2 separate regions of the Homo sapiens genome follow, and region 2 is linked to region 1. The links come from fine-mapping of genetic effects on gene expression. Tissue or cell type: whole blood. Region 1 holds a variant in brackets; the other region holds the start of a gene. All regions are shown on one strand. Distances are between the middles of the regions.

Evidence for each region. PIP is the estimated chance that this variant, and not a neighbour inherited with it, causes the effect.
Region 2: it holds the start of LINC01232, and the variant in region 1 is fine-mapped to the expression of LINC01232 in whole blood (TOPMed, PIP 0.99).

The regions. Positions count from the first base shown.
Region 1 is chr13:99,540,146-99,550,266 of GRCh38, reverse strand. TM9SF2 (transmembrane 9 superfamily member 2) reads right to left here. Exons shown (of 17, transcript NM_004800.3): 8 at 9,474-9,553; 9 at 8,600-8,708; 10 at 6,272-6,404; 11 at 3,163-3,282; 12 at 1,045-1,102. Among named protein-coding and RNA genes, the nearest start is that of LINC01039, 32 kb to the left of the region's middle. RefSeq lists enhancers at 1,843-1,892, 3,840-3,989, 6,957-7,016 and a silencer at 7,367-7,436. The variant A/G (reference allele first, on the strand shown) is at 5,815.
Region 2 is chr13:99,494,935-99,505,055 of GRCh38, reverse strand. LINC01232 (long intergenic non-protein coding RNA 1232) reads left to right here and starts at 5,750. Exons shown (of 5, transcript NR_110731.1): 1 at 5,750-6,370; 2 at 7,720-7,807; 3 at 8,512-8,681; 4 at 8,839-8,921. TM9SF2 (transmembrane 9 superfamily member 2) reads right to left here and starts at 3,584. Exons shown (of 17, transcript NM_004800.3): 1 at 3,279-3,584. The coding sequence starts at 3,449. LINC00449 (long intergenic non-protein coding RNA 449) reads left to right here and starts at 3,993. Exons shown (of 2, transcript NR_133664.1): 1 at 3,993-4,661; 2 at 5,116-5,333. RefSeq lists enhancers at 3,204-3,792, 3,699-3,878, 6,157-6,276, 6,287-6,496, 8,468-8,597 and 1 more.

The sequences.
Region 1 (10,121 bases):
GGGAATAGAAAAGAAATGAGATGGAAATAAGAAGGGAAGATGTTTATGATCCCTTTTTAGGGGAGACATGAGCCTATTTGGAGGAATAAAAGAACCACATAAGCAGAACATGTGAGAAGGGAGCAATGGAAGATGTGTGAGACTAGAGGGAGAGGTGCCTGAAAAGCAAGATTCGGAGATTCTGCAGGAAATCACAGTCTTGGTAAGGACGGACACCTTCGTGAGTTGACAGAGGGAAAGAAAACAAAGGACATGGCTTGAGAAAAGCATAGAAATTTGAATAGAACCGATAACTGAGAAGAATGTGAATCTTCGGTGGAGGTGATAGAGAGAATATTTATCCCAAATGTGTATTAAAATGCTGCTGCCATCACGCTTGCATTTCTAGCCTGCAAATGGAACAGTTCTGGTTTCTAGACTTCATCATCCTTGGCTTTCTTTATTGCTGTAGCCTGTTCACGTGTCAGTTCTTGCCCACCAGAAATGTGCAGGTTTGGGAGGAAGTGGGTTTTGCTTCTAGGACCAGAACCGCATCAGATAATCGAGAGGAGAAGCAGTTCCAGAGAGTGAAGGATTTTTGTTTTGTTTTGGATTTGTGGTGGCTGCTTATTTTTTATTTTTGGTGTATATTACTTTACTTAATGGAATAAACTCTAAAAAATGGCAATGCTTTGGATAAAAATGGGAAAACATATGCTTGCCTGAACTATCTTCAGGATTCCTTCCTGTGCCTGGCTCAAAAGCTTTAAATGCAGCCTACAGAACAACATGTCAGACTGACCACTAAAAACCAAGAAACAGAAAGACTTTGAAGAGAAGGAATTAAAACATTTCTCATGTCTAAAGGTACTTTCCCCAGATAAGACATGTGGTAATCATTTGGCAAACGTTTATAAAATATTTATTTTACCCCTTTTCAAAAATTAAATTTACTTTCTTAGGTACATGATTTAGAGACACGGAGGATTAAAGACTCAACGACTGAAAATTTGGGGACTAACATGTAACTATGTTAAGAAAGTAATTCTTGAAAAATTCACTTACCCAGGACAAAGAAATGATGTTAATAAAACATTTGTTTTCCACTTCTCACCTCCAAAGGCTATAGAAGAAAACAAAAGTTGTATAAATACAGATTTTCTTTAAAGCAAACCAAATATCCATATTACAAGTCTGATATTTGCCAAACTGTCAGACAGCAATGAGTACTCATTCCTAGAAAATGGTACTAGCAAATATAATATGATATTCCTTTATTAAATAATCCAAATCTGAGACATACAGGATGGGATTCCCTAGGTAAGTCCTGCTCTAGAGAATCAGAGGCAAGTCATCAAGATCAGTTCTTCTTTTCCCCTCACAACCAAAAGAATCCTTAAATCCTGAGCCAGTATCAATCAATGGGCCTAGGCACAGGAAGGGCACACGGGATTCTCACTTATCTTGCAGTCAGTTTCAGAATTTGTTATAAAACTGGGAACCGTCAAGCCTGATGTGCAACACATTTACACTTCCACAGTAGGCCAACTCTTCCTCTAGCACTGTGGTTTCTAGGAGGAACTGTGGTTCCTAGGAGGTGCGTGTGTCAGATGAGGCAACTAAGAAGAGTAGAAGGGTTATGACCATTTGACAGACCATGTTTGCTAATATATGTTTTACTCTCCTTTGCCCCTCTCCAACTTGCTTTTTTTTCCAGTTTAAAGAATTCAAATACTGAAGTAGCTAGAGTGAAAAATGAAAGTACACGTCTGCTCCCAGTTTAAGTCAGAAATGAAACTGGCTGAGATCTCAGAACAGCTGTGATTTTTAAAAAAGTTTTAACATAGTTGATAGGCAAGTTTAAGTGCCACTTGCCCTAAAAGAAAATAATAAAATTACATATACACATAAGATCATATATATGTATCATGATTTGAACTCACAATGTTTCTGATAAACAGACTGTTATGAAATGATTAATTCTGGGTTTACTATAATTTCAGTCAAAATTCAAGTAATACAGGATCTGCAGCTGGGAGACCTGAAGGATGGGGAGGCATTAGTGAGTGGAGTGCAGATGGGAGCAGGGTGTGGGAAAGCAGGCAGCCTGTCCGAGGAACCGACAGAAAGCCTGTGTGGCTGAAATGGTGAGAAAGGGGGAGTGTGGCATGAAGTAAGGCTGGTGTGGCAGGCAAAGGGCTGACTGTATTTTGTATGCATTAAAATCCGTATGATGGCCCTAATCCTACCTCCTTTAGTAAAGGGGAAGAAAGAACTTGACAAAATTCACAGAAATTAAAACACACTTAAAACACACATACATACAGGGCTTCACATACTCAAGAGAGAACTGTGTCTGACAAGGTCTAAGTTAATCTTTTACTGGGGGCTGAGACTACCCAACCCCACATTAAGGTTGTCCACGTAACTCTACTGTGCTTCACCTCAAAACTTTTTCACATTGCTAGACCGTGGGGAATCACTGTATATCCCAGACGAGACTGTGGCATTCCCGAGGAGGCCAGCTCTGGTCCCTGCTGACCCTGCCAGCTGCTTTCTAAGCCATCCAGTCCCATCTCAGCCTTACTCTGTGGCCGTGAGCCTTTTGTTTCACTGAACTTTATTTTACTTCTAGAATGCAAGAACACAAGAGATTGTGACTAATGATATTACAAAAGTAACTTTCCAGGTCTCCAAAATAATGAGATCTTTGTTTACTTGAAACAGTGTATTTTTATAAATATTAAATTGATACAATGTAAGTATGACTTCTCATATGTAAGAAAAGGTACACCTAGATGTACTAGTTGTTTTAGTGAAAAAAATCAGTGATACTCATTTGTATACTTTTCTCCTTTATTAGTCTATATGTGCTTCTATGAACACAGCAAATCTAAGCTGTTCAGCCCAACCTGTTAGCCAAAGCTTAAAGAAAAAAAGAGGGAGGGGATAGTGGATAAGTGGCACAATTTGCTTGTTTCACTAAACATTTTCGAACAAATAAATTTTGGGATAGTAACTCATGACACAAAAGGAATCACCAAGCAGGCTCCTTTTAACTAAGAACAGACCCCTATGAGGCACACTATTTACAAAGCATCACCATCTGATACCCAGGTCAGATCCACAGCCGCAGCAGAGTCCCTTCCTGATCAGACGCCAGTCACAGTGGCTTTGACTTACACTTATAGAATCTGGCAGCAACATAGCCTGCAGGGGTGCCCAGCAGCACCCACAGGACCACAGCACACGTCATCAGCGCTCCTCGGTTGGCAGGTGACAAAAATCCCAGGCAAGCGAAAACTAAAACACAAATCGTGAAAGGCTGTACATGTTATTACTCTGTTTCCTTTGCTGTGAAATGATAGAGAAACCCTCTCATTTTTCAAACAAGAAAAAAATACAACTTCACGCAAAACCATGTGCTCTCCTACCATGCAGCTCTACACAATCTTAGTAATATTTACTGTACTGCACCAATCTGATCATACATGAGGCAAACTTCACTTTGGAAGTTTCTTCTCAGAGTCCAGAATGAGAGATCACATCCTTCCTGTGATCAGGGGAGGCTGACTGGATGCTCAAGAGTGCATTTGACTCTTCTGAGATTCAAGTACAGCCTTTAAAATTGACATAAGTGAAAATGTTTCCACTACAAAATATTCCCACTGTTCTTTCATTAAAAAATATGGGGGTCCTCTGGGGGTAAAAAAAAAAAAACCCAAAACCTTACAACATTCAAACAGAAGAGACATATATAATCTAATGAAAGAACAAAATGAGGGAGAAAGATTTCATACGGCCATTAGCTTTTCACAAATTACGGAAGGACCTTGTCAGCAATACGGGGAAACCCTGGCCCTACCTTATTCACGTGGTTAGCTTTGTTTGCTCTTCCCTATGTAAGCCTTCCTACTAATGAGAATTAAAATGCTATATTATATTCATAGAAATTCCCAGCTTTAAGCTGGGGCTCAGAAGTTATAAGGTGCTCAGAATCCCAAGGTGAGTAGGATACTGCTGAGAACTGAGTTTCAGGAGGCTCAGCAAGAAAATCCCCATTGTTTCCCCCCCTATTGTTTCCCCTAAAACGTGCATGACCAAGCACGTATGTGAGCAAGCACGCGCACACACCTCTGACAAGCACCAGAGTCATGATGAGCAGGAAACACATCAGGGTAGCTTTAGAAGATGTACAAGATTTCAGCTAAAATGCAACCCCTTTCTCCTCCTCGACCTGAAAAATGGACTGCCCTTCGGCAGAAAGTTCCTATTTGAGGACTTAAGGAAAATTATTCCCATCGTATTCTATCCTAGACTCTCTGAAACTTTCCTTCCTTAAAAGTTCACTTTTCTAGCTGACCGCAATAAAAACCAGAGCATCGCAGAAGACAGCTCCTAATAAGATTTGAAAGCAGGAGTTGGCTGGGTGTGGTAGCTCACGCCTGTAACCCCAGCACTTTGGGAGGCCGAGGCGGGCGGATCACGAGGTTGAGAGATTGAGACCATCCTGGACAACATGGTGAAACCGTGTCTCTACCAAAAATACAAAAATCAGCCAGGCGTGGTGGCAGGCGCCTGTAATCCCAGCTACTCAGGAGGCTGAGGCAGAAGAATCACTTGGACCTAGGAGGTGGAGGTTTCAGTAAGCCAAGATCACGCCACTGAACTCCAGCCTGGTGACAGAGCGAGGCTCCGTCTCAAAAAAAAAAAGAAAGAAAGAAAGCAGAAGTTTATCTTCAAACATTCATTCTGCTCTAAGTCTAGTTTGGCTCTCTGTCACCCAGTGCCTTCACCCTACCACCCTCTGTCCAAACCTTTTTTATGACACCTTTTCCTGACCTATTCTCTTTAGTATGACTTAACTTCTCTTTAGTATGATATAGTTACAAATTCTAGCTCTACCTATCAAAATTGTATCTCCTTAAGTTGTTAGTAGATTAAAAAAAAAAGATATCCTAGTCAGTCTTCAAACTGAACCTGAAGGTGTGAGTTTGGTTCCCAAACTTATTCAGTGCCAGACATTTGAAAATGATACTGCTCTTTGCAAAGCATTTATATAATTAATTTTATCATAAAAATTTGGAACAACTTTACTAACAAAAATAACTGTGGTATTATGTATTTAATATGTAATCAAACATAAAAAATAAATGTTTACTAAAAAATTATTAAAGGTTAGTTTCTGAATTCTCCCAGTATATTCATTTGTTGCTATTTATCAGTAGCAGGCATCAATAAAGTAAAATACATTAAATAAAGGTAAAATTTAGAAAATTCTATTCATAAACCTTTTTTATCTTCCAATTAAGGAAACTGGAAGACAGTGGAATTAACATATACCCAGAGGTAGTTTCAGAACAATCCCTGTGGCTATCAATACCTCTAAGGAACATTTATTTAAAAAAAAAAATTGTCCTAGTTGGCAAAAATTTAAATACAATTTCTGAAGTCGCTGAGGTAGCTCAAAGAAGAGAATCTTTTTATGGAGGAAGGAAGGTCTTTCCTACACACTCGCTTTCCCTAGAGGAGAGAGATCCTGCTTCCCAAATCCTCCCCAGATGAGAAGGATCTACACAGTGCTTCCTGCCCCATCCCTTCTTTTCCCACCCTCCTCCCTCCGTGGAAGCCAAGAATATCCTGGAACCCTAACCAGACTGTGCCTGCCCACGATGCCTGGGTAAAAGAGACCCTAAATGGTCCCAGTTCTGGGCTGTTTAGACTCAGATGCTGATGGTCTTAAGGACCTGTTCATCTCCAGCCCAGTGCCTCCCTGACAAAGGCTTGGTCTAGGAAGAGCTGAAGGGAGAAACCAAGAGTCAGTCTTTGGGTGCA[A/G]CTAAACCTGCCCCAAGTCACTTAGATTTTGAGAACCTAAAGGATGCTCAGAAATAATCTGGCTTACCTACCCACTTAGAAAAACTGTGGTGTTTTTTGTTTTTTTTTTTGAGATGGAGTCTTGCACTGTCACCCAGGCTGGAGTGCAGTGGCGCAATCTCAGTTCACTACAACCTCCGCCTCCCAGGTTCAAGCTACTGCCTCAGCCCCACAAGTAGCTGGGATTACAGGCACCTGCCACCATGCCCAGTTTTTGTATTTTTAGTAGAAAGACGGGGTTTCACTATATTGGCCAGTCTGGTCTCAAACTCCTGACCTTGTCATCCACCCGCCTTGGCCTCCCAAAGTGCTAGGATTACAGGCATGAGCCACCATGCCCGGCCAGAAAAACTGGTTTTTAAGCAATTACTGTATTTAGAAAGTATTTTCTACTTGAAAATTTTCAGTTAACACTTACATAGAGTCACAAAGGTCATAATTAAAATCTGTGTCCCGGATCCTAGAAAGACTGATAGCAGCATCCCTTTTCTTGGAGGACGGAATATATCACCATGAACAAGTTTCCAGCCAAATTCTTCCTGGGCATCTTCCTAAAAGGGGAATGAAATCAGTTCGATTGTCTCATGGTATCAACAAGACAACTATAGACAGTTTGTTCACTGTTGAATATGCTGTTACAGAAAACAGGTTTTTTTTAAACTTAAAAATGTTAGTACCTATTTCAATTTTGAAGAATACAGCTTGACTCATGGAGCTTAATATGGCTTTGCTGAACTGTCTTATATGTCAGTTTCTTAAATTTATGACATTAAGGTCTACAAATATACTTATTGAGAAACTTTACAAAGACAATGTGATTGCTACCTAATTCTACTCTAAGTCAAGCTTTGTGATCTGACTTGATGACGATTTTTAGTCACATTCTATCCTCTTCATCCTACTCTTAATGATCTCCACAATAAGCAAATGGCATTAGCTCTCATATTCTAGCTACTTTGCTAATACAGTAAGCATGGATGTAAACATTCATTGAGCACCAACTATAAGCTCGGCTCTGTTTAAAACACCAGATACCACAGTGAGTGTAACAGAAAAATTCCTACTCTCAGGAGTACATGATCTCATTGGGAAGGCAGACAATAAACAAAATAAGTCAGGAAAGTATACTGTACATTAGATGGTAATAAGCGCTGTACAGAAAAACAGGATGTATGGGTGTGTGCAGGACAGGATGTAACATATGTGATGGCTGGGAGGGGTTCAATGGGAAGATCACATTTTGTAAAGATCGGAGGGAGGTAAGGGAACTAGCCATGTAAATGAGGGGCAGACCTTCTTAGCAGATAAAACAGTGAGCTTCGTGAAGGCTCTGAGGTGGAAACCTATGTCTGCCTGGTCTGAGGAACAGCAAGGTAGCCGGCACAGGTGCAGCAGAGTGCTGAGGTAACGTGGGGCCTTAGAAGCCACTGTAAAGCCTCTGACTCTTGCTCTGACTGAACAGAAGTCCCTGGAGGGCCGTGCTCAAGAGTGAAATGATCTGACTTCTGTTTGAGCAGTTTCACTCTGACTGCTGTGCTAAGAGATGGGAAGTAGGACAGGGTTGTGGAAGCAGAGTCACCACTGGCCTGGTTCCACATGGCAACGCTGTGCAAATTAAGATAAAACTCCATTAACAGCAATTATGTGGAACAGCCAATTATAAACAGAGTATTTTAAAATCATTTTAATATTTAATAAGACATAAAATCAATAAAAATCATAGGAAAGAGACTATAGAGTACAAACGTTAAAAGCTTATGAATATTCATATATATTTTCCCCAATCAGAACAGGTCAGAGAGGTTGGGGGACAGGAGGCTGAAGAAGCTGGGGGAAGAGAATACAATAAAAACCTGAGTTTTTTGCATTCATTCCAAATTACTGTGATTCTTGTGAAAATTCTTTTATTATGCTGCCATGAAATGAAGAGTAGAAAATGTGTAACACTGTGCAACTTAAAAAGTTTGAGACTAAAGAGGCTGGAACATGCAATTATTTTAAATATATCAAAAGGTTGAAATGATACAAATTTGTTAAGATTAATTTTAAAAAATTAACCACACAAATAAAAATTGCTTAGGAGTTATTCCATTCAACTTTGTGGTTTCACAAACAGGTATGTGTCAGGGATGGAGAAACCTTACAGAGTTGTAACTGTGCACCTACACCCCACGCTGCACCAGTCCATTCCCACACAGGAGGCTGTGAACAGGTCAGCTCCCAAGGCTGTGCTGACTCCATTTCTATTTTTTTTTTTTTTTTTTGAGACAGAGTCTTGCTCTGTTGCCAGGCTGGAGTGCAGTGGCACGATCTTGGCTCACTGCAGCCTCCGCCTCCTGGGTTCAAGCAATTCTCCTGCCTCAGCCTCCCGAGGTAGCTGGGGCTACAGGTCCCCACCACCACACCCAGCTAATTTTTGTGTTTTTAGGAGAGATGGGGTTTCACCATGTTGGTCAGGCTGGTCTTGAACTCCTGACCTCAGGTGATCCGCCCACCCCGGCCTCCCAAAGTGCTGGGATTACAGGTGTGAGCCACCGCGCCCAGCCAAGAATATTAATTCTTAAGTATCACTTTCTTATTTGAAAATGTGAATTCAAGATAACTTTTGAGAAGAATTTTTTTGTTTTTGTTTTTGTTTTTTGAAGAATGTTTTAAAAGCAGATTCTAAAGCTATTATTTTACCTTTTTGCAAAATAACAATAAACAGTGTCCTTGGCAGACTAAAGACTAAAATGTTTCCACTTACCGTAGAGTCCATCTGATTATATCTAGCAATATCTTTGTGCAGTGTCCGTAACATAATCATAGCTACCATTCCAGATAAGAAGAGAACAATGACCAGGGAATTCATAATGCTGTAGAAATAAGCACATCATGAGTAATCTGTAGCTTAATCCTAGGAACAGTAAAACTCTTTTAAAAACTGTTTATTGAGTAACATTAAAACAGTCTTGATCAAAATCAAAATGAAAGCTATCTGAAATCCAACAAATTCAATGAACTGTGTTCTTTCATGTTTCCCTCCAGTAGATAAATAACATTATATACTTATCATAATACAGTTTCATAGTCTGTTTAGAACTAGAATTTTTTGGTACATGGTCAATATTATGAAATAACTACTGTGCCCAAATCACTGCCACAACAAAGGACTGGCTTGTGCCCTCAAGAAATTTACTGAAGAACAACTTTACTCAGTAAATTAGTGAGTGTCAAAAAGATCAGACAGCAATAGGAAAAGGAGAGTTATGGCAACATGAACAACTCTAGATAAAAGTTTTGAATCATGTTTGAAGGGGATAATAATAAAGTCATAGCAACAACAGCGGCTTCTGTTTCTGAACACTCTTATGTGCCAGACAATGTCCTCAAATATTCTGTCCCATGATGTCCTTTAATCCTCACAACAATCCCATAAGGTGGGTATTTCTAGATAAAGAAACAGACGCTGAGAAATTAAGGGACCTGCTGTGACTCACAATCAGTGGCTGAAAGCCAGGATTTGAACCCAAGGCCAGACTTTTGAATAAAGTAGAGAGGATTTGAGAGTAAATGAGATGTTCAAAGGGACAGAGGGTAGAAAAGTAGAAAGCAAAAGCAGGCTAACTCTGTACTCTTACCTAAACCACTGAATGTGGGTATGAGGCATAGACTCCAGAATATAGTCCCATCTAGACGCCCATCTGATCTTATCATCTTCCTAGAGGAGATTAAAAAATCTCTTTAAGTAAACATCTGCTGACAGCACATTAAGAACAAAAAAAAATCCCATTCAAAGCTTGTCCTTCCATTGAGTCAACAACTGCAATTTCTAAATTATCTAACTTTGGTTAGTCCTGAGATTTGGAGAGTTTCAGATTTACTAAAGTCTAGGGGAAATCAGAGTAAGATTATGCAACCAAAAAAAAAAAAAAAAAAGAATTCCTAGTAATACCTACTAAAAGTATTGCTTTAAATTATAACTAGATGTTTAGATGTCAACATTTAGACCTATATGTAGGTTTTTTTTTTTTTTTTAAGAAAATAATGGAATGGAATGGAATAATTATTCTTTTCTTTATGCCGGGGGCAGCTAACCAGACCAGTCATTCCAGGCACACTGAGCTCTTAATATCTAGAAATATATACTATTTACTGCACCAGGTTTGCAAAATGAAACATTATACGGGGATATTAAACATCACAACTATATTGGATTGCCAAAAGTTTTAAAAAATAGAGTTGGAACACTGCCTAAGATTCTTGCATTTTAATGATAAACTTGCATT
Region 2 (10,121 bases), 45 kb after region 1:
CATTGTTGAAAGAAATCTGGCAATACTAAACAGAACTAAAAACTTCTTCTTGTCTTTACCTAGAATTTTATATTTGGGGATATGCAAATAATTACTGCTAAATACACTGTAGCAAAGCTATTCATAATAGAGAAAAATTGGGCCCAATCTAAAGGCCCTACAAGTAAGAATGGTCAGGCAAACCACAGATTGTACAGGAACAGAATGAAATAGTATCGGCTATAAAAAGCAATAAGAATGTGCACCTCCTCAATATCCAAATGCACGCACATGTAAAATAAGTTAAAAAAAGGAGGCCATGAAAACATACTCACAGTATCTATGAAGGCTAAGAAAATTAATCAGAAGTTACAGCAATATAAATAGAATTTTATATTCACTGGACTCCTGTTTCTCTGCCAGTAAATTCAACATAAGATAATTTTTAAAGAGAGAAAATTACTAAATCCTCAGCATTCTTCTGATTCTCTCTCAATTTACATCCTGAGCTAAATGCATGAGACAAACTTTACAGTACATAAAAACACTCTACTACCTAAATTATATATAAGTTGAAGATATATTTGTTTCATCTCTACACTATCACAACAATGACAAATATTGCACTTTTCCTCTAAGAAATGCAAAATACCTTTCAAGGGGAATATGTCATAATCAAATATGATTATCCCTATTTTACAGATGGAAAAACTGTTGGTAACAGTATCAATGACCTGCCCAATTTCTCCAACTTCAGATTCACTAACTTAACAGCATCTTTTGGAAAAAATTATTTCCATTTCACAACTCTCATTTCTAATTTTTAAAAGAAGTTCCTTCCACTTTTCTGAATAATGTGTACAAGACTGTCCTCCTTAACAAATACGAAATAGATGAGAATAAATTATTAACATCCTGATTGAAGTAATACAAATTTCAACTGTTTACTGTTATTTATAGCATCTTCTTTGAAAGGCAAAGAAAATAAATATTAAAGTGTATTTCAAATTCTCTACACCAGTTAGTCATATCGCAGGAAAAAAGCTGAAAGTACACCCTCCTGCTCTTCTAAGAGTTGTTTCCATTAACCAGATGTGAGTGTAGCTGGCAATAAAGATAAAAATCCAAACATTTCGGAAAAATGATCTGCTCTGCCTGTTTTATCCCTATACCTATGAAAATTAAACATCCAAAATGACTCCCAAGATTAACTAAAAAATAACTAGAATACAACCTAGCCACTTACCAAAGGACCTGTTGAGAAAACAATCATCTAACTGGAAGACCACCTATAAGTTTCACTTATTCATTTTCTAAGTCCATCTCAAATGTCACTTCTTCTTCTTTTTTTTTTTTTTTTTTTTTTTGAGACAAAGTCTCGCTCTGTTGCCCAGGCTGGAGTGCAATGGCGCGATCTCAGCTCACTGCAACCTCCACCTCCAGAGTTCAAGCGATTCTTCCTGCCTCAGCCTCCCGAGTAGCTGGGATTACAGATGCCCGCCACCACGCCCAGCTAATTTTTGTATTTTTAGTAGAGACGCGGTTTCACCATATTGGCCAGGCTGGTCTTAAACTCCTGACTTCAGGTGATCCACCCGCCTCGGCCTCCCAATGTGTTGGGATTACAGGCGTGAGCCACCACACCTGGCCCTGTCACTTCTTCTATAGAGCTTTCCCTAAAGACTCTAGTCCACTGATGTTTCCTCATTTTGTTTTAGCACACTTTGGACATCATCCTGTGTAACAGATCAGATTTCAATAATCTGTTCATAAGCTTATGTCCCTTACTTTGAGGTTCCCAGAGGGCAGGAAATATATTTTTCATCTTTGAGGCACTAGGAATAGAATATACAACTGCTGTTAAAGTAAGACCAAACACTAGGCCTTAAAGGTTGGTTACTAAAATATTTAATGGAAAAACCAGTGTACTTGCAAGTCTAGATCTTCCACTTGGAAGCACAACAACAGTCTTTCAGTCAGAATCCTCAAAAAGGAGTGAAAGCTTCTTGCACTGCAGAGTATGAACTTAAGTACTGAAACACTAACTGCAGACTTGAGTAAACCTTAAATATCCTTAGATATTTTTTCAGATACAAGGTTTTGCACAGATGTATAAACATGTCATTCAAGATAGCTGACAACCTAAAAAGAAACTGCAAAATGTTATGAAAAATTTAAAGCTTATCTAATGCCCTAAAATAACCTCAAAATTCACAGCTATAGTAAAGCTAACTGTAATAAACACCAGCTTAAAAAAATCAAACTTAATAAATAAGCCTATTTATAGATTGTAAACGTTTGTTGAACGATTATTTGAATTGTTGAAATCATTAAAGGTTTCAAAGAGATCCTCATCCCCCAAATGTTAAGTTTTAAATAAACTTAACGAAATAATTGTGTATGTATACTGTAAAGCCCTACACCATATAACCTAAAAGCAGGTTACTTTATTTACGCCTCTTTTACTAGCAATTAAACTGAAAACCTTGAGTGTGAATGTTGTAAGAGATCAAAGTTTTCAAGACTTGCCCTAGGAAAACACCAGTTTCTCCCACCATTTGCCCCTTTTAAGTGTTTAAAACCATCTCAGAGAAAATAGTGAGACCTCGTATCTTTTTTTGTGTATTAAAATCTTTTACACTTAAAACTCAGAAATCAAGTGCCTCAACCATTACAGCAACTCTTTATTAATGCACTTTGTGTGGCTCTGGGTGTTATACTCCACAAATAAGGAACCAACTTCTAATTGTGAAGCGAGATATCAAAGTCCTAGAAAGAACAAGCTCTCCTAACCAACTAGAAGGTTCCAGGAAAATGCAATTAAACAGGAAGCAATGAAGTTAAAAGCTAATGGAAACTGTTAACTAGGCTGAGTGTTGCTCACATGTAGGGAGTCGGTCACCCGCTTCCTCAGCGTACATGTTACAGGGCTGTGAGCGAACACTCACGCGTGGACCTGCATACATCCAACTCCAAAGCTCTGAGGCGTGAAGCCCAACTCCAAGGGCGCTCCACACGGTCCCTGTTCCAGGAAAACTGAATACAGCTGCTCGTGCCACTTGGCCCGCAAGACGGGAGGCGAGTCTGAGGCCCACTGCGTCCTCCAGAAACTACCCTTGCAAGGGCTGTTTCAGAGCCCCCCACCCACAGCCCAGCAGACCCCAAAAGCTTCTGGGGAAACTCAACCCCACCCGCTGCTACGCCCCCTTCCCTCGCTCCCACCCGAGGATCAGCTCCCCCGGATAGGGACGACTTCCCCTTCCAACAGTGCATCAGAGGGCTCGTCAGGCCTCACCCACCTTGCACTCGTCGCTCTTTTTTTCTTCGTCGCAGAAGTTGACGGGCGCCAGGCCGGGCAGGTAGAAAGCGCCGCTCCGGCGCGGGCCAGGAACCGCCCCCAGCAGGAGCAGCGACAGCAGCAACAGCCGCGGCCACCGAGGTGGAGACAACACCGGCAGCCTCGCGCTCATGATAGTTGTTTCGGGGAAAGGGCAATCAAACCTAGGGGGTCAAGAGGGAAGGAGGGGTGGGGAGTCTCGGAGACGACTACAAGGCCGCCAGAGATAAAGGAAGCCGGCCCCCAGAAGGCTAGTTCCGGTTGCGCTAGGAGACACCCCGGGTCCCGCAACAGAAACCGAAGCGGACCGCAACAGAGCATGCGCACCGCCGTCTGCACATGCTCAGTGAGAACGGTCGCAGGCACCAGGAGGAGTTTCCGGGAGGGAGCGGGGGCGAAATCCACTTTCCGGGTTTTCCGCGCGCCAGCTGAGGTGGTTGCTGGGAGAGGTGGTTGCTGGGAGAGCTGTTCCGGCGCTCACGTTCCAATTCCAAATTACAAATTCCGATCTAGAGCTCCCACGCTTGGGGGCTGTGGAGCGCTCGCCAGCCGCTCCCCGTTTGCTGCTGGGTCTTACGAAGTTCTCATATCCATCATACAGTTTCTTTGTCACACTGTCCGCGGCACGCCAGTCCCTATGACAGAAAGCACCTGCGGTCTGTCTGGAGGCGGAGTTGGTGGCGGAGAGAAAAAGTTCTGGAGACACCTGGTTGGGAGCAGGCTAAGGAAACAAATGGGGAGGAATTAGCCACAAATCCTCAAATAGACAGCTACTCAAAGGCATCTTCACGGACAATTTCCAAGCATTGGATGCAGTGGTGCATTCTTGCATTGGGCAGTGATTGTGTGCACACATCTCTTTAAGGGAGAGTGGAAATGGGGTGAGGAGGAAAATGGGAGTAGGATAGAGTGTAGCGTTGACATTTATTTTCTTTAAAGGAAGACCCGAGCATACCTGAGAGCTCAGTGAAGAAAGTAGTTCTGGCGAATCGGATTAATATGGTATGATCAGCCTTTAGCAAGATTCTATCACTTTTCCCACTGATGATGTGAGACGGTGTCCGCGTGTGTAAGTGCACACACGTGTGTGTGTGTGTGTGTTGCATCTTCTGAGTATTTTTCAAGGAGAAGCTTTTTAGTGATCTGAAAAAGTCAATTCAGTTAGCCACTAGAGTTCAATCAAAAACTTCGGAAGAGTGCATCATCTTAAAGTACATAAGAGAGAATCATGACCTCCAGCTCAGAATTCAAGAATAGGCAGGTTTGTGAAATAGTAAGCTCAGAAAGTTGAGGGCCAGTGAACTCCTATTTCAAGTTCTTGCGGGTGTTTGTACTTTTTTCCCAGGTAAGGTTTATAACTTTCATCAGATTTTCAAAGGGACCTAGGACCCTGCAAATTGATCCATATAGTGGGGTAGCCAAGTTAATCAAGAGAACTGGGAAGTAGAAAAGAACGTTCATCTTAAGGTTGTTGTGAAGATTAAATCAAAAATGGAGGGAAAGTGCTGAGCACATAGCTTGGCCCAAGGAATGGCACTTTTTTTTTTTTTTTTGATAACAAAAACTAATCTGGTAGGGCCTGAGCAGAAAATTGTGCCTAGGTGGCTTCCCTTTCATGTCCTCTCCCTCAAATAAATCAACATATTCGCTGAACTTTGGGATAGGGAAAAATTGTAAAATATTCTGTATTTGGAAGTCATGGAGATTTCCAATATAACAAAAGGAAGCAGACGTTTTCTCCAAATATTAAGAGGAGGAAACAAAAATTAACATTTTTGCTCACTATCTTCTTTTCCTAGCACCACTGAAACTTGACCTTCGGCCGGCGCGGTGGCTCACGCCTGTAATCCCAGCACTTTGGGAGGCCGAGATGGGCGGATCACGAGGTCAGAAGATCGAGACCATCCTGGCTAACACGGTGAAACCCCGTCTCTACTAAAAATACAAAAAAATTAGCCGAGCGTGGTGGCGGGCTCCTGTAGTCCCAGCTACTTGGGAGGCTGAGGCAGGAGAATGGCGTGAACCCGGGAGGCGGAGCTTGCGGTAAGCCGAGATCGCGCCACTGCACTCCAGCCTGGGCGACTGAGCACGACTCCGTCTCAAAAAAAAAAAAAAAAAAACAAAAAAAAAACTTGACCTTCATTATATCTCACTGCCCTCATCCCAAACATTTCCTCTCCCAGTTTTCCAGGAAACGGCATCGCTGCCCATCTCTTTTCAGGCCCCAACCCTGGAGAAGAACCTAAATTTCTCATTTCCTCACTACCTACCTCCAGTCCTTCAGCAGGTCCCGTTGGTTGGGCTGCTAAACTATGGGCTAAATCCTTTCAGTACTTTCCATGCCCACAGCTACCACTCTGGTCCAAGCCAAATTCTTAGTTCCCCTGGACTTCTTACTGCAGTAGCCTCTCAGCTTCCACTCTTGGCAAAATCAATTTTATAAAACCTTGAAATCCCTTAATACCACTCGTCTGCTTAAACCTCGGCATCCCACATTTACCACTATCAGGAAGGATCACGTTTGTTTGTTTGCTGTCTCATTCCCCCATTTATATGTGAATTCCACGGGTAAGGGCCTGCTCCTACATCCCACACCTCTACATCCACAGAGCCTAGAGACCGCAGGCGCGGGGAAAGCACTCCACGACCATCACTGGCCAGGCCACAAGAGTGCTGGATCTAAATTTGGAACCGGACTTTCAGAGCTGAAATAAACCTGAGGTTTTCCAGGGGCTTTTAACCTCCTTTTACAGCCAAGGATGCGCCTAAGAAAGGGGAGAGGCTTCCGTGACTTCCTGCAGTAACGCAGCCACTAGAGATTGAGACTACAACGACTTGGGAGTCTAAAAGTCTGCAACCTTTTCCACTCCAGAGCTCAATGTTTCCTCAATCCCCCGGGATCGGCATCAGCAAAAACCCGGAGAAGCGGAGCCTTTCTCAAAGAAAATGACCTCCAGACTCATGCTACCATCTCGACCGGTGCAAGTATCACGCATGCGCAGGGCCGGCCGCCCGGCCGCACCTCGCCAACTCCTACTCGGACACGTCATCTAGGTCGGCCTGGGTCTGGTGGGAGGGGCCGGGGGCGGGGCTCGTACGCGGGGCGAAGTGGTCCCCCTACTTCCGGATCCGGCCTCACCTGGCCAACGCCTCATTCGGGGTTCCTTGGTTACGTGGCTGCGGTGTCTACCCGGTGCTGGGGCGTGGCGGAGAGAGACCGCCCCGCCCTCCACGCAGGCCACAAAATGGAGGCCCTGCCCTGTGGGCTTTTGTGGCCTGGGCGCTGTCGTGCCGAAAGACGAAAGTGACAATTCCAGTTGCAAACTGGAAAGAAATGGAGTTTTTCCTTCATTCTCCCCATGATCGTGACGGTCCTTTTCTCAAAGTACTAATACTTTTAATGGGACTGTAAAACTTGAGGGATATGACTCTCTCCTCTCCTCTGCTTCAGATTGCATTTGCCAACTCTGATTTACCGCCAATACTATGGTGCTGTCATATTCATAGAGACAGAAAGTAGAGCAGTGGTTGTAGAGAGAGTCTGCAGAAGGAGGGATGGGGATTTACTGTTTAATGGCATACGGTTTCAGTATGGGTTGGTGAAAAAGTTGGGATGAATGGTGATGACTGCACAACAATGCAAATATGCTAATGTCACAGAAGTGTACACTTAAAAATGGTTAGACGGTAAGTTTTCTATTATGTATATTTTACCACAATTTTTTTTTAAATGCAACAGAGTCTCGCTGTTGCCTAGGCTGGAGTGCAGTGGCAGGATCTCAGCTCACTGCAACCTCCGCCTTCCAGGTTCAAGCGATTCTTGTGCCTCAGCCTCCCAAGTAACTGGGATTACAGGTGCCAGCCACCACGCCCAGCTAATTTTTGTATGTTTAGTAGAGATGGGGTTTCACCATGTTGGCCAGGCTAGGCTGTTCTCGAACTCCTGAACTCAGGTGATCCGCCTGCCTTGGTCTCCCCCAGTGCCGAGATTACACGCGTGAGCCACCACGCCGGGCCCCACAGTTTTTTGTTTTTGTCTTTTAAATTTTTTTTAACAGCATTTGTGTCTTTTTTTCTTTTTCTTTTGTTTTTGAAACAGAATCTCACTCTGTCACCAAGCTGGAGTGCAGTGGCGCCATCTTGGCTCACTGCAACCTCTGACTCCCTGGTTCAAGCAATTCTCCTGCCTCAGCCTCTCCAGTAGCTGGGGTTACAGGCACGCACCACCCCGCCCAGCTAATTTTTGTATTTTTAGTAGAGATGGGGTTTCACCATATTGGCCAGGGTGGTCTCCATCTCCTGACCCCGTGATCCACCTTGCCTTCCCAAAGTGCTGGGATTACAGGTGTGAGCCACTGCACCCAACCTAAATGGCATTTGTTTCTTCCACTCCTCTCTGCCAGAATAATTTGGACAGCCTTTTCTGAGTTTCCCATGACGACTTCTGTATAAGATTGTCGGATATAGCAAATAAAAGTACAGTATACCCAGGTAAATTTTAATTTCAGATGATCAATGAATAATTTTTTAGTATAAGTACATTCCAACTATTACATGGGACATAAGGGTATTTTATCTGATCACCCTACTTTTGTGTCAAGTTAAAATTATTAGCAAAAGTGCTTCCGTTTTTAGGAAGTGCACACTGTACTCTAGTAGTTAGGCAGGAGAACAGGGTCTGCGAGCAGGGAACCTAAGGCCGTTTCACACTGACTTCCTAGAGCCATTTGGAAAGGAAAACCCTAACTTTCCACTCCTAAGTAACAAAAGGCCCAGAGGCCACTCCCTTTGCAAACCCCCACCTTTTCTGTGCCGCAGCTGGAAAATTGAAAGTGCCTCTGATTGGTTGCTTTCTGCAACTAATCAGATGTTTGCATAGAGTGTAACTTTGTAACTTCACTTCAGCCTCTGATTGGTTGCTGTCCCCAACCAATCAGACTGATTGTGGGCCAAGGCTTCGTTTGAATAGAAGTGCAACTTTGTAACTTCACTTTAGCCTCTGATTGCAGGCCACCACTTCATTTACATGGGGTGAGCACCAAGTAAGTGGCCAATGGGAAACATCTAGAGGGTATTTGGACCCGAGAAGATTCTGTATCTGGGGCCCTTGAGCTGCTGCTCAGCCTGCTCCCACACTGTGAAGTGTACTTTCACTTTCAATAAATCTCTGCTTTCCTTGCTTCATTCTTTCCTAGCTTTACTGTGCGTTTTGTCCAATTATTTGTTCAAAACGCCAAGAACCTGGACAACTTGCTGTCCGCAACCAATCAGACTGATTGTGGGCTGAATCTTCATTTGCATGGAAGTGCAACTTTGTAACTTCACTTTAGCCTCTGATTGCGGGCCACCACTTCATTTACATGAGGCAAACACCAAGTAGGTGGCCAATGGGAAACCTCTAGAGGGTATTTGGACCTGAGAAGATTCTGTATCCGGGGTTCTTGAGCTACTGCTTGGGCTCACTCCCACACTGTGAAGTGTACTTTCACTTTCAATAAATCTCTGCTTTCCTTGCTTTGCAGTGCGTTTTGTTCAATTCTTTGTTCAAAACCCCAAGAATCTGGACAACTTGCACTCAAGACCCTCTACGGGTTTGGCGAGCCAGGTAGGAGGAAGCCCAAAGTATGGGATTTATTTTTCTCCTTTCTTCTTTTCCTCTCTGCTACATACAGGGGAATCTTTCTCTCTTTCTTTTCCTTTCCAACTCGGGACTCTTGGTGAACAGTGCCTAAGCATAGTGACAACTGCAAGTTTCTGGCCAGAGCCTCTCTCTGGTGAAACTGAAAGGCTTCCATGTGGAAGCGTCTGAGTAACACCACTGGGTTTGGGTGAGGGACCTGAGTCCTTTTCCTTGTTTTTGTTTTTCTGAGTCCTATTCCTTTTTTCCTTTTTCTGAGTTATTTCCCTTTTTTTCTTTTCCAGTCTTTCAGTGGCTGTTTTCTAGTAGCTCCTTGGCAATTGAGGGGAACTGGCTGGGACCACTCTCCAGTGCTGTCTGAAGGCCAAGGAGTGAACAGGGATGGCTGCCCTGCCTTGAAGAGGGAAGGACTCTTTTCTATCCTTTCCAGCTATAGTCCCTGATCCCTACATGTGATGCGGTTGGCAGCGGAAGCTCATCCTGGGCGAACTCACACACTTTTCAGGAGACTTAAACCTTTTCTTATGCTAAGTTCTTCCCTTCCCCTACTCATCTGGCTAAAGGACAGACTATGCAAAAAAGGTTATACAAGTCAGAGGGTCTGAGCATGTCGGAGGTGGTCTGTGTGGGGCATGGGGTGGGGGGAAAATTCATGAAAGGCAATTTATTGCCTAAATTTAAAGGGTTAAAGGGTTGCTTTAAGTGGGATAGAAAAACCTTAAGGAAAGTTCATAGTAGGTCCTCAGTGGTGGAGTGTTGTGGGAAGTCAGGGACCCTGAATGAAGGGACTGGCTGAAGCCATGGCAGAAGAACATAAACTGTGAAGATTTCATGGACATTTATTAGTTCCCCAAATTAACACTTTTATAATTTCTTACGCCTGTCTTTACTGCAATCTCTGAACATAAATTGTGAAGATTTTATGGACATTTATCACTTCCCCAATCAATACTCTTGTGATTTCCTATGCCTGTCTTTACTTTAATCTCTTAATCCCGTCATCTTCGTAAGCTGAGGAGGATGTAAGTCGCCTCAGGACCCTGTGATGATTGTGTTAACTGCACAAATTGTTTGTAGAGCATGTGTGTTTGAACAGTATCAAATCTGGGCACCTTAAGAACAGGATAACAGCAACGTTCAAGGAACAAGGGAGATAATCTTAACGTC